2 separate regions of the Homo sapiens genome follow, and region 2 is linked to region 1. The links come from fine-mapping of genetic effects on gene expression. A gene starts in region 1. The other region holds a variant in brackets. All regions are shown on one strand. Distances are from middle to middle.

Region 1 (5,369 bases):
CACGGCACAATGCACAACAGAGAAAATCAAATCAAACTCCAGACAAGAACACTTTGCTTAAGAAAGCAGATGTGAGAAATGTGCCACTTGTTTGTGAAAGTTTTTCATCAAAACAGCTCTCACAGAGATGGGGGGGTTTGATTTAAATGAGAAATGTGCTTATAAAAAACAGATCTTTGGTGAGTAATGAATAGCTATTATCTTATCTATTTAATTATGTATTTAAACGACATATGAAATTTATTATATTTTCCTAAACAAGTTTGAATTATGTTTTTGATTATCTGAAGTGCAACAAAGTTCATCTGCAATGATTCAGCTGTTTATTCATTCTAATATATGGCCACCTACTACACTGTCTGGCACCTATCGAGAGTTTAACAGATGTTTAATTAATAAGTAAGCATCAGTTGGTGAATAGCAGTGCTATTCCAAGATCTTGAGGAAATATTAGAATCTATAAGATGTGGCTCTTCCTGGACAATCAGGCTGAACTCAGCAATTCTGCCACTTCTCAGAGGCCAAAACCACTCCATGAGAAGGCTCCCTATCAGAGCCAAATCACCTCTGGGCAGAGCCAAGATAAATCCAGTGCAATCTACATGAAGTTGTCTGTTTAGACCACACAGATCTGCACAATCTTCCCTACAGGGCCCTGGTGACATCTGCTGAAATGAATGAAGCAGTCGAATCAAGGGCACCATGCTTCACAGTCACGTTTCTCATCTTTTCGCTGCATGGACTGTTCTGCGGGGACGTGGCGGGTCTCGGGGCTGGGCAGTCTCAGAGGGTCAGGATCTGAGCGCACTATGGATCCGGGGAGAGGGAAGGGTTAAGAATCAGTGAGGAAGGGGCTGGGCAAGGACATTCTACCCACCCCCCACCCCCCGCCAAAAAAAAAAAAAAAAAAACAACTCACAGGAGGCAAATCTTTGGTGTGTATTTGCAAATGCCAAAGAGAAACATAAAAGAATGGTTTTCCTATGGAACACTGAAGAAAAATGTCGATCCTGATCTTTCCTCTGTCTCCTGCTTGCCCCCTGCCCTACGAGGCCAAGCAGCCAAGCAAGTGGTCAACAGGTGGCCTCTCCGAGCAGAACCGTTTCAGATGTTTAAGAGAAATGACATTTTAGGAGTGGAGCAATGAGCTCAACTTTCTGTGACAAACTTCAGGGGTACTTGTTTAAAAGCATGTTATTTGTGCTTCACCCACAAAGGTTCCAATTTGGAAGAGCTGAACTGGGCCCAGGAATGTATATCCTTTGTGTGTCCAGGAGGAGGTGTGGGTGGAGATAAGCAGCTCCTTGACCACACTTCAAGCAACAACTGGGGTGTGATTCTGAGGCATGTCTTCTCCTCCTCCATTGACTTTCTCCTCTCCAAAGGGTTATCACTGGTGTGACCAGCTCCTCCAGAGGTACCTAAGGTGATCTCATAGCAAAGACCCACGCCCTGGACCCATCCTGCTAGTGATGAATCTGAAGGTTCTGAAGGTTCTGTGCATAACCATGTGGAGCCTGAGTGCACAGGGGCCCAGAGCTATCCTGATTTCTAATCTGGAGCTCTTTTGTCTCTACCAAACTGCTTCTTTATTGAAACTTTACATCCTGAGGGGTTCACTGAATAACAGCGACCCCAAGGCACCTAGAAACAAGCAATGTCATGTTTCTGTACTTGGATTAGAAAACAGGAAGGGAAGGCAGGAGAGTGTGTGGTGTATCTTAGAAAAACTTTTTAAACGTGATACAATCTGAGGAAAATTTGCATTGATGCCAGTAGAGGGCTAGATAGCTTTAAAATTGATCATTTAAATGTATTGACGTAGAAACGTATTCACAATATACTTTAAATGGAAAGCTGTGTTAGGGTCAAGTCTTACAATGCGATTCCACGGTTGCACTGCCACACACACACACTTACATATGTGCCCAGAAAAGCATTGGAAGTAAACCACGTCCTCCTGTTAATAGCAATTGTTTCTGGGTGGTGGAGTTTAGGGGAACTGATGCACTTTTTTCTTTGGTTTTGCCCATCTGTACTGTAACTTTCCCCGAACAAATGTGCATCACTTGTGTCATAATTTACTTTTTTTAAATACATGGAAACAACCACAGTCTGTATTTATTCTCTGGTTAAAGTGCTAAGCCTTGTAATCTAGAATATTCATCTGTCCGAGACTGTACCCTGGGACTCATCTCACGATGAGACATTTGGCCTCCTCCCCAACTCAGTTTCAGAATTCATCTGCTGGATTTCTGAGTCCCACTGAGTGATTAATGTCACACGGGTGACAAGGCATGACTCATAGGCACCAAGAAAGCAGCAGCAGTGTGTGCAGGCCGGGAAGTTGCCACAGCCCTCACTCAGGGCTTCATGCACGCCAGGGCAGTCCTGGGTCAATGGTCTCTTTCCCCTCCTCCTGTTGGATAGATGAAGAGGCCTGAGCAGGAAGGTGGTGGTTCCGTGGGGAATCTTCAGTGACTGGAGTATGTTGTAAGGATGGTGAATCGTCACTTGGCCAGCCAGGGTTTGGCAGTCAAGACAGAGAGCAGTGTCTGGGCCCACAGCATGAGAGACTGCTGGACTTCAGTCTTCGGAGCAGGCAAGAACGGGGAGCTTCTGTGGATTTCTATTCCTGTCGCCTGTCACTGTGAACAGTGCCCAGTACTGCTGGTCAGTAAATGTTTGCTAAAATACTGAGCAACCAAGGAAGTGACTTCAGTTGAACTCTGTACCTGTTGTGTTCACTTCCTTTGCAACATGCGTGACTAATGGTTACTCCTTCTCTTGAATGCTTCCAGAAGAGTAGCACTCACCACCTCATGAGGAAAGGCACTGCAACTTTGGTCAATGATATCTGTTAGAAAGATCTTTTCCTATATTTAGAAGAGTGATTCTCATACCTGAGCATGTATGAGAATCAGTGGGTTTGAGGTGGGCCCAAGAATTTCCCTTTCTAACAAGTTCCCAGAAGATGCTGATGTGGCAGCTTCTAGCACAGTGCTTGGAAATCCATGAGTTTTCAAGAGGACAATCTAAAGTGTTCCTTTGTTTTCCTTTACTTCCCCTCATTCTCAAATCCTATGGGGATGACACAGAGAACCACAAACAAAACAACACACACACACACACACACACACACACATACACACACAGAGCACCCTTGTCCCTAGCTTTATCCTCTGGGATACACAGGACAAGCTCCTCCCTGTTCTATGTGCAACTTTTAAAATATGTGCAACTTTTAAAATACGTGGATGTGGCTTTCACATCTTCTTAGTCCCTCTTTAGCAGATTTTTTACAAAACAAATAAGCCAGGAAACCATGGTCTGAAAGGATTCCTGCTCTGGTGAGATCCAAGACCCACAGCGAGGGCGAAGACAGAGGTCTTGCTGCAGCCCCGGCTTCCTCCACATGGAGGTCCCAGGAAGACGGCATAAGCCATTGCCTCGATAATAACCTGCTTGCTAACTTCCAGCCAGTGCTTCCACATTTTCATGACTTCCAAAGGTTCAGATGAGGATGGTAGTTGTGAGTTTGGGATGAAGTCTTCTGAGCGACTCCTATGGCCCAGCCACAGGGACCTGGGGCTGGAGAGAGAGGACCATCCCAGGCTGCAGCAGCCAACACCTGTGTGGAGGTGCAGGCCCGTGGCCCCCAGCTGTGGTGGACACAGCTGTGCTTCCTGATAGCACCCTTCCCTGCACCTACACCGTGACATCCTCCTCCTCAGCCTGAGTGCAGGCACCACCTGAAGGGTATTTGGGGGAGGGCACCAGTGTCCCCAAGGTAGGAGCTAGTGCATATGGCCTCGTCCTTCAGAGGGACAATTCTGAGAGGCAATCTGCGTGCTTTCAAAGGCCCAGAAACACACCCTGTGTTGCCTCCTCCCTGTCTGACTCTTCCTCTTCCTCCTGCTCCCTGGGACCAGCTCCCAAACAAACTCAATTTCTTCTCTCAGTCGAAGTTTGCTAAGTGAGTGAAGAGTCAAATAAATGATGTTGCTTAACTCTCCCTCTGATGTGTGAATGTCCTCTAGGAACAAGCCTTTTGTAGGAGAACTGTAGGCCAGGGCTGAGTGCACCTGGGATGCAGGATCTCCAGGGGGGACCTATCACTTGTGCGAATTTAAACCTGCTCAGAGCTTAGGGCCCGGCTCTGCTCAAGATGGGCAGAAATAAAGAAGACTAAACATTTACATCTCAAGAGTTTATTTACCCTGGCCTGACTCTTCAAAAAATGCCATTGCTGCTACCCTGAGGATTAACCATGGCCATTTTTAGACCAGGTGCCATCCTGCCTTTAGCCTCGGGTCACCCCTCTGACTCACTGCCAGGAAACGGAGCCTAGACCCTGATGTGTGGTGAGAATTGGCCTGGTTTTCACCTGAGATCCACACTTGAGAAAGCTGATTGAACTCACAGCGTGCCATCCTGCCTAAGATCCTCTTCAGAGATTCTATTTCCCAGAGGGAGGGGATCACTTTCCGCAGTGGGGTTTCTATCTGGGACATTTCTCTTCATCTGTAGGAACCCTATTTAAAGGCTAGAAAATCTGAGGGAGAAGTGGAAAGAAGAAAGCTGTGTAGCTGTGACGATGGCCTGGGACATGGATTCCCAAAGCCTGACCCTCCGCTGTGCCCCCTGCTCCCCAGCAGGCATGGTTAGCCTGTCATGGAACCCTGCACCTGAGCCTGGGCGAGCTCCAGATTCCTCAGCACACAGAGCTCCAAGCTCCTCCTGCCAGGCCGCCAGGGCTGGCTCCCGAGAGAATGCACAAGCCTTTTGTGGTGTCTGAGAAAACACAGCTGAATCTACTAGGCAAGGGGTTGTATAGGGCACCTCGGGAAGAAGTCGCACAGGTGCCCCCAGAGATCTCAGGGGCAGGGAGGGGCTCACCCATAAGGGAAGGGGAGGACTCAGAAGGCTTTGAGGAAGAGGCAGCTCCTAAAATGGGTGAGGGCAGAGTGTGCCCTGAGGCCCCACAGCAGGCAAGCAGGTGACTGGAGAAGCAGCTAGGTCTGGTGCCTGTGTGCCAGGCTTGTATGCCAGGGCTGGGCTGCATGGGATGCACAATGCTACTGGGCCAGCACCATCAGCAGTGTACTGCCCCTCACACCCAGGGCAGGCCTTGAAGCTAAGAGAGGGATGGGGCAGTGCCCATCGTTCTCCTGCCACTGGAGTGTGACCTTCTGGTGCCATGACAGCCAGTGGGTGGCAGGTGCCTGCCCCTCTTCCCATAGGCTGCCCCAGGAGGAAGAGGGGCCCGTTCCTGTGAGTAGAGCACAGTGAAACCACTCTCTTTTCTGCACAGTGAAAGAGACATCCTTCACGGGGTGCAGAGAAGCTGCTGCCCTTTCCTCCCCGTC
Region 2 (5,369 bases), 39 kb after region 1:
GCAAATATTGCAGGTGGTAAATATTGCTGCCTGATCCTTCCTCTGGAAGCTTTGCCCCAGAGGGGCACCCACCTATATGGGGTGTCTGTCAGCCCCTACTGGAAGGTGTCTCCCAGTTAGGCTACATGGGGGTTAGGGACCCTCTTGAGGAGGCAGTCTGTTCATTCTCAGAGCTCAAATGCCATGCTGGGAGAACCACTGCTCTCTTCAGAGCTGTCAGACTGGGACGTTTAAGTCTGCAGAAGTTTCTGCTGCCTTTTGTTCAGCTATGCCCTGCCCACAGAGCTGGAGCCTAGAGGCAGTAGGCCTTCCTGACCTCTGGTGGGCTCTACCCAGTTCAAGCTTCCTGGCCACTTTGTTTACCTGCTCAAGTCTCAGCAATTGTGGATGCCCCTCCCCCAGCCAAGCTGCCACCTCACAGTTCAATCTCAGACTGCTGTGCTAGCAGTGAGCAAGGCTCTGTGGGCATGGGACTTGCCAAGTCAGGCACGGGAGAGAATCTCCTTGTCTGTTGGTTGCTAAGACCTTGGGAAAAGTGCAGTATTTGGGTGGGAGTGTACTGTTTTTCCAGGTACCATCTGTCACAGCTTCCCTTGGCTAGGAAAGGGAAATCACCCAACCCCTTGTGTTTCCCAGGTGAGGCAACACCCGGCCTGCTTCAGCTTGCCCCCCGTGGGCTGCACCCACTGTCCAACCAGTCCCAATGAGATGAACCAGGTACCTCAGTTGGAAATGTGGAAATTACCCATCTTCTCTGTCAATCATGCTGGGAGCGGCAGACTGGAGCTGTTCCTACTCAGCCTTCTTGGAACAGAGCCCCCCTCACAAAGGACTTTCTCTGGCTAACTCTGATGCTTTTCTGAGTTCTTACCTAAATTTCCCCTTCTCCTTCTGTGGCCCTGCCAGTTTTGTTTTGTTTTGTTTTGTTTTGTCCTTATCACTACCCTTGCTGCCTCCTCAAATTATCCAGAGCCACTGTTGTTTTCTAGAACATTGGCAAGCACGTTGATAGAGTGCCCACATTGTACTGAACTCTGAGGGGAATAGTCTCGTCCCCATCACTCAGGTGGGGAAACTGAGGTGAGGTTAGTTTAAAGTGGGTAAGCAGTGGGTTTGGAATTGGAGCTCTGGCTGGCTGGCTCATGTCCGTGCTCTTCCCACCACAGCAGGAGGCCACTGGAGGCTCCAAGGGCTCTGAAATGTTGAGAACTTCCCTGCAGGTACCAGCGAAGAGGGCAAGAACACAGCACTACTTCCTTGGATACTGTTTCCCTCCTCAGAGGGGTTTTCTGAGCTGCCCTGGGTCCTGTGAGGAAGGTAGGAATTACATTTCACTAGGGAACAGCCAGGGTCACCTCCTTGCCTGAGGCCCCACCATCCCATCAGCCTGGATGGGCCTGCTCAGCAGCCACACTCGCCCCTAGGCCGAGAAGGGGTGGGGCTCGGTTCCACAGAGTCTCCCAGGGCCTCAGGCAGGTACTCTAGGCTGATTCCATCTCCAGGTTCGCAAGTAAAAAAAAAGTCAACTGCCCAAAAGACTTCTCTTAGAACTCACAGCAGGTTAGGCTGGCAGGTGGAGTCTATGCTCGGGTGGTCCCATCTGCCAGGCCTGATGTTCCAGGTGAAGAGATTGGTGAGCACCAGGTGACCCCACCCAGGTGCACGTGGCTCTGTCGGGTACAGGCAAGTCTCTGCCCACCAAAGGGACACCACAAGGGCCCAGGCAAAGCAGAGCCTTTCTCACTGGGTGTCTGCTGGTGCTGATGTCACCAAGGAACACACCCCGGGCAGCTTAAACCACAGACGTTTATTCTTGCATAGGGCTGGAGGTCACAAGTCTGAGATCAAGGTGCTGGACAGCCTGGCTCTTCCTGAGGGTGGCTGGCAGGTCCAGTGCAGGCCTCCCACCTTGGCTGGTGGACAGCCATCTGCTCCCTGGCTCTCCATATCACCTTCCCCTTGTGCCTGTCTCTCTCCAGATCTCCCCTTCCTGTAAAGACACCAGTCCTACTGGATCAGGGCCCACCCGTGTGACTTCACTTTTACTTGAGTACCTCTCACAGACCCTAACTCCAAATCAGGTCACTTGCTGAGGTACTGCATGTGAAGACTTTGACATTTGAATTTTGAGGGGGCCACCGTTTAACCTGAACCACCAAGGACAGAGCCAAAGACCCTGGGTGACAGGCCCAGAACAGGACCTGGTGGAGGCTCTTCTTTAGGGGAGAGAGGGAAATGGGAGCCACCACTGGCAGAGCCTGAAGGCAGGGCAGCCAGAAAGAAGCTGTGGGAGTCCCCACCATGGAAGACCCTGCCGAGCATCCTGTGTCTCCTGAAGCAGACCCTGACATGAGGACTGGGGGCACGTGTTTATTAAGGGCGATCCCCGGAAGGAGGAGATAACCAGGTAGGGAAGGAGGGAACCCCAGGGCAGGGCTCTAGAGAGAGAGGATGACCCTCAGGAGCAGGAGGGTGCACCTGAAACCAGACCCAGCAAGAGATGGAAGCCCTGGGAGCAGCCCCACTCCAGGTCCTCTGCAGGAGTGACCCAGCTGCCACCAGGCTGCCCTGCCCAGCTCAGCAGGCCCTACGGGTGCAGGGAAGCAGATGGGCAGTGAGATCTGGGACCGGTATAGAACCACAGCTGCCACAACT[G/T]CCCATGGCTCCCTCCCTTCTTTGACGTCAGAGTGAGCAGGGCGGTTTCTGCTGCCTTCGCATTCCAGCCCCACACACCTCCCTGCAGCCTGGCACTGGAAACTGCTGAGCCATGCAGGGCAGCCTGGTGGCGGCTAGGACACTTCTGCAGAGGACCTGGAGTTGGGCTGCTCCCGGGGCTCCCATCTCTTGCTGGGTCTGTTTTCAGGTGCACCCTCCTCCTCCAGGAGGCAGGGGCAAGACCAGCTTCAGCCCTTCTTGCTCTCCATGGTCTGTATATGGACAGGGTGTGGGCCCGGGGAGACAGTTGTGTGGTGTGTGCATTGTGTGTGTGGGGGGGGTTGTCTGTGTGTCTGTGAATATTTGTGTGATATGTGTGTAGTATGCTCATGTGTCATGACTCTGTGAGGGTGTGATGGAAGAGTGTGTGTAAGAGAGAAGTTTGAGTGTGTGTGGTGTGTGCATCTGGTGTCTGTGGGTGATGTTTGTGTACATAGTGTCTGTGTGTGTGATGTCGGTGTGTTGTGTGGGTTTGTGTGTGTATATAGTGTCTGTGTGTGTGATGTCAGCGTGTTGTGTAAGGATTTATGTGTGTGTGTGGTGTCTGTGTTTGTGATGTTGGTGTGTTGTGTGTGGGTCTATGTTTGTGTGTGATGTTGGTGTGTGTGATATCAGTGTGTTGTGTGTGGGTTTATGTGTGTGTGTGTGATGTCTGTGTCTGATGGTGTGTTTTGTGTGGGATTGTGTGTGTGTGTGTGGTGTCTGTGTGTGTGATGTCAGTGTGTTGTGTGTGGGTTTATGTGTGTGATGTCGGTGTGTGTGATGTCAGTGTGTTGTGTGTGGGTTGATATGTGTATGTGTGATGTTGGTGTGTTGTGTGTGCATTTATGTGTGTGTGGTGTCTGTGTGTGTGATGTCAGTGTGTTGTGTGTGGGTGTATATTTGTGCATCATGTCAGTGTGTGTGATGTCAGTGTGTTGTGTGTGGGTTTATGTGTGTGTCTGATTTTGGTGTGTTGTGTATGGGTTTATGTGTGTGTGGTGACTGTGTGTGATGTTGGTGTGTTGTGTGGGTTTATGTGTGTGGTGTCTGTGTGTATGATGTCAGTGTGTTGTGTAGGTTTATGTGTATGTGATGTTGGTGTGTGTAATGTCAGTGTGTTGTGTGTGGGTTTATATGTGTTTGTGTGATATTGGTGTGTTGTGTGTGGGTTTATGAGTGTGCATGGTGTCTGTGTGATGTTGGTGTGTTGTGTGGGTTTGTGTGTGTGGATGTGGTTTCTGCCTATGGGAGGAGGTTTGCTCACAGATGGAGGAGAAGGAGCTCTATAGGCAAAGATCCCAGGGCCGTGGAGGAGGAGACACAGTCCTGAGAACTCCTTCCTCTGAATCAGAAGGACAGGAAAGGTGGGATTTTAAAGGAACAGAGAACCCTGGTGGGAGAGGTGAATCTGAGCTCCTCGGGCCATCGGGTGTCCTGTGGAGCAGAGGCAGGCCCGTGAGGGTGATTTTCAGAATGCTGCCTGCTTCTGAGAGTGAGATGAAGACCCTCTGGGGTCCCGTTGATGTCACCAATGTCGCCTGTCTTGAGGCATCTCTGGTCCAGACCTGGCTGGGAGAGAGAGCTATGGGTGGAGATGCACTGGGTGGGTGCTGGTGGGAGGGGAGGGCTGGCTTTTCCTCAGCCCCCAGACTTAGAGAAGATCACACGCAAGAGCTTGGAAGTCCTGGGAGGAAGTATGATCCCGAATCCTGGCACACTTGATCATGCGTGACAGGGACTTAAGAAAGCCCCTAATTATAGCCGTGTGGGGTTTGTCTCCCTTCTGAAGCTTGGCGCCCGTGTGCTCAAGGCAAGGGCGTGACCAAGGTAAGAGACCCCTTCTCTCCCTTAGGCAGAAGTCCTAGCAGAGTATGCCCACGCTGGTTAGTGCTGCTGCAAAGATGAGCCGAAGACCATGAGAGACCTCCAGGTGGTCCTTCTGGGGAGAAGAAATGGGTTTTGGCCCCAAATCCTTCTGCTGCATTTTTCCCCTATCCCTGGGAAGCCATGAGACCTCAAACCTGTGTTCCCAAGGAGGCGAGCTGCTGTTCCCAGGTGATGATATGATGTGCTTGGGGAAAGTAAGTGGCTGCCAGACATGGCTGAGAGCTGTTGTCACTGCCGTCAAGTGCATGTCTCCAAGCCATATCACACGGCGTCCCTCGATGTGAGGCCACATGGCAAGTGGGCCGTGGATCTCCCTCTGCCCTTTGCAAGCACGTAAGACAGCAGATTTTGCAGATACCTTGTGGCGCAGGGGAATTTCCTTTGGCCAGGTCTGAAGAAATAAAGCAGCAGGCACCGAGAACAAAGCCAAGGCTTTCAAAAGACAAGGAGCCAAAAAACTTACTCAAAATAAAAGTAGTTTTAAAATGTCTCTGCCATTGGTAGTCTCATTTTCTTTTTAATGTAGGAAATAGTCAAGTATTAAAATGACCAAAATGAAACAAGTGCCTCATGGACTGAGAAGGAAGGAGGAAGATAAAAAATGAAACCAGGACAGAGAAGAGAGGGAGGTTCTGGGTGTATTTGCTTTGGGATTACATGTGCGCATGTCTTGTTTTTCCCTTTTATATCTCCCTCATCTGAAATATGTAGCAAAGAAAAATTTAAGCTGTAAGAGGGAAACTTTTTCCAAACAGTGAAGTTTACCAAACTGTGGCCTGAGATCT

Direction of the effects. Alleles are on the strand shown, and positions count from the first base shown. SD is a standard deviation of normalised expression in the study named.
In carriers of allele G in region 2, the expression in tibial nerve of the gene that starts at base 2,362 in region 1 tends to be lower than with T alone (large effect, 0.77 SD a copy in GTEx).

Evidence for each region. PIP is the estimated chance that this variant, and not a neighbour inherited with it, causes the effect.
Region 2: its variant is the best candidate, but not a certain one, in a credible set for the expression of LINC03125 in tibial nerve (GTEx, PIP 0.89).

Annotation. Positions count from the first base shown.
Region 1 is chr20:23,145,742-23,151,110 of GRCh38, forward strand. It overlaps LINC03125 (long intergenic non-protein coding RNA 3125), which reads left to right and starts at 2,362. Exons shown (of 6, transcript NR_199692.1): 1 at 2,362-2,673. RefSeq lists enhancers at 1,811-3,010, 4,505-5,369.
Region 2 is chr20:23,185,234-23,190,602 of GRCh38, forward strand. LINC03125 (long intergenic non-protein coding RNA 3125) reads left to right here. Exons shown (of 6, transcript NR_199692.1): 5 at 2,082-2,407; 6 at 4,550-5,074. Among named protein-coding and RNA genes, the nearest start is that of LINC03125, 40 kb to the left of the region's middle. The variant G/T (reference allele first, on the strand shown) is at 2,656.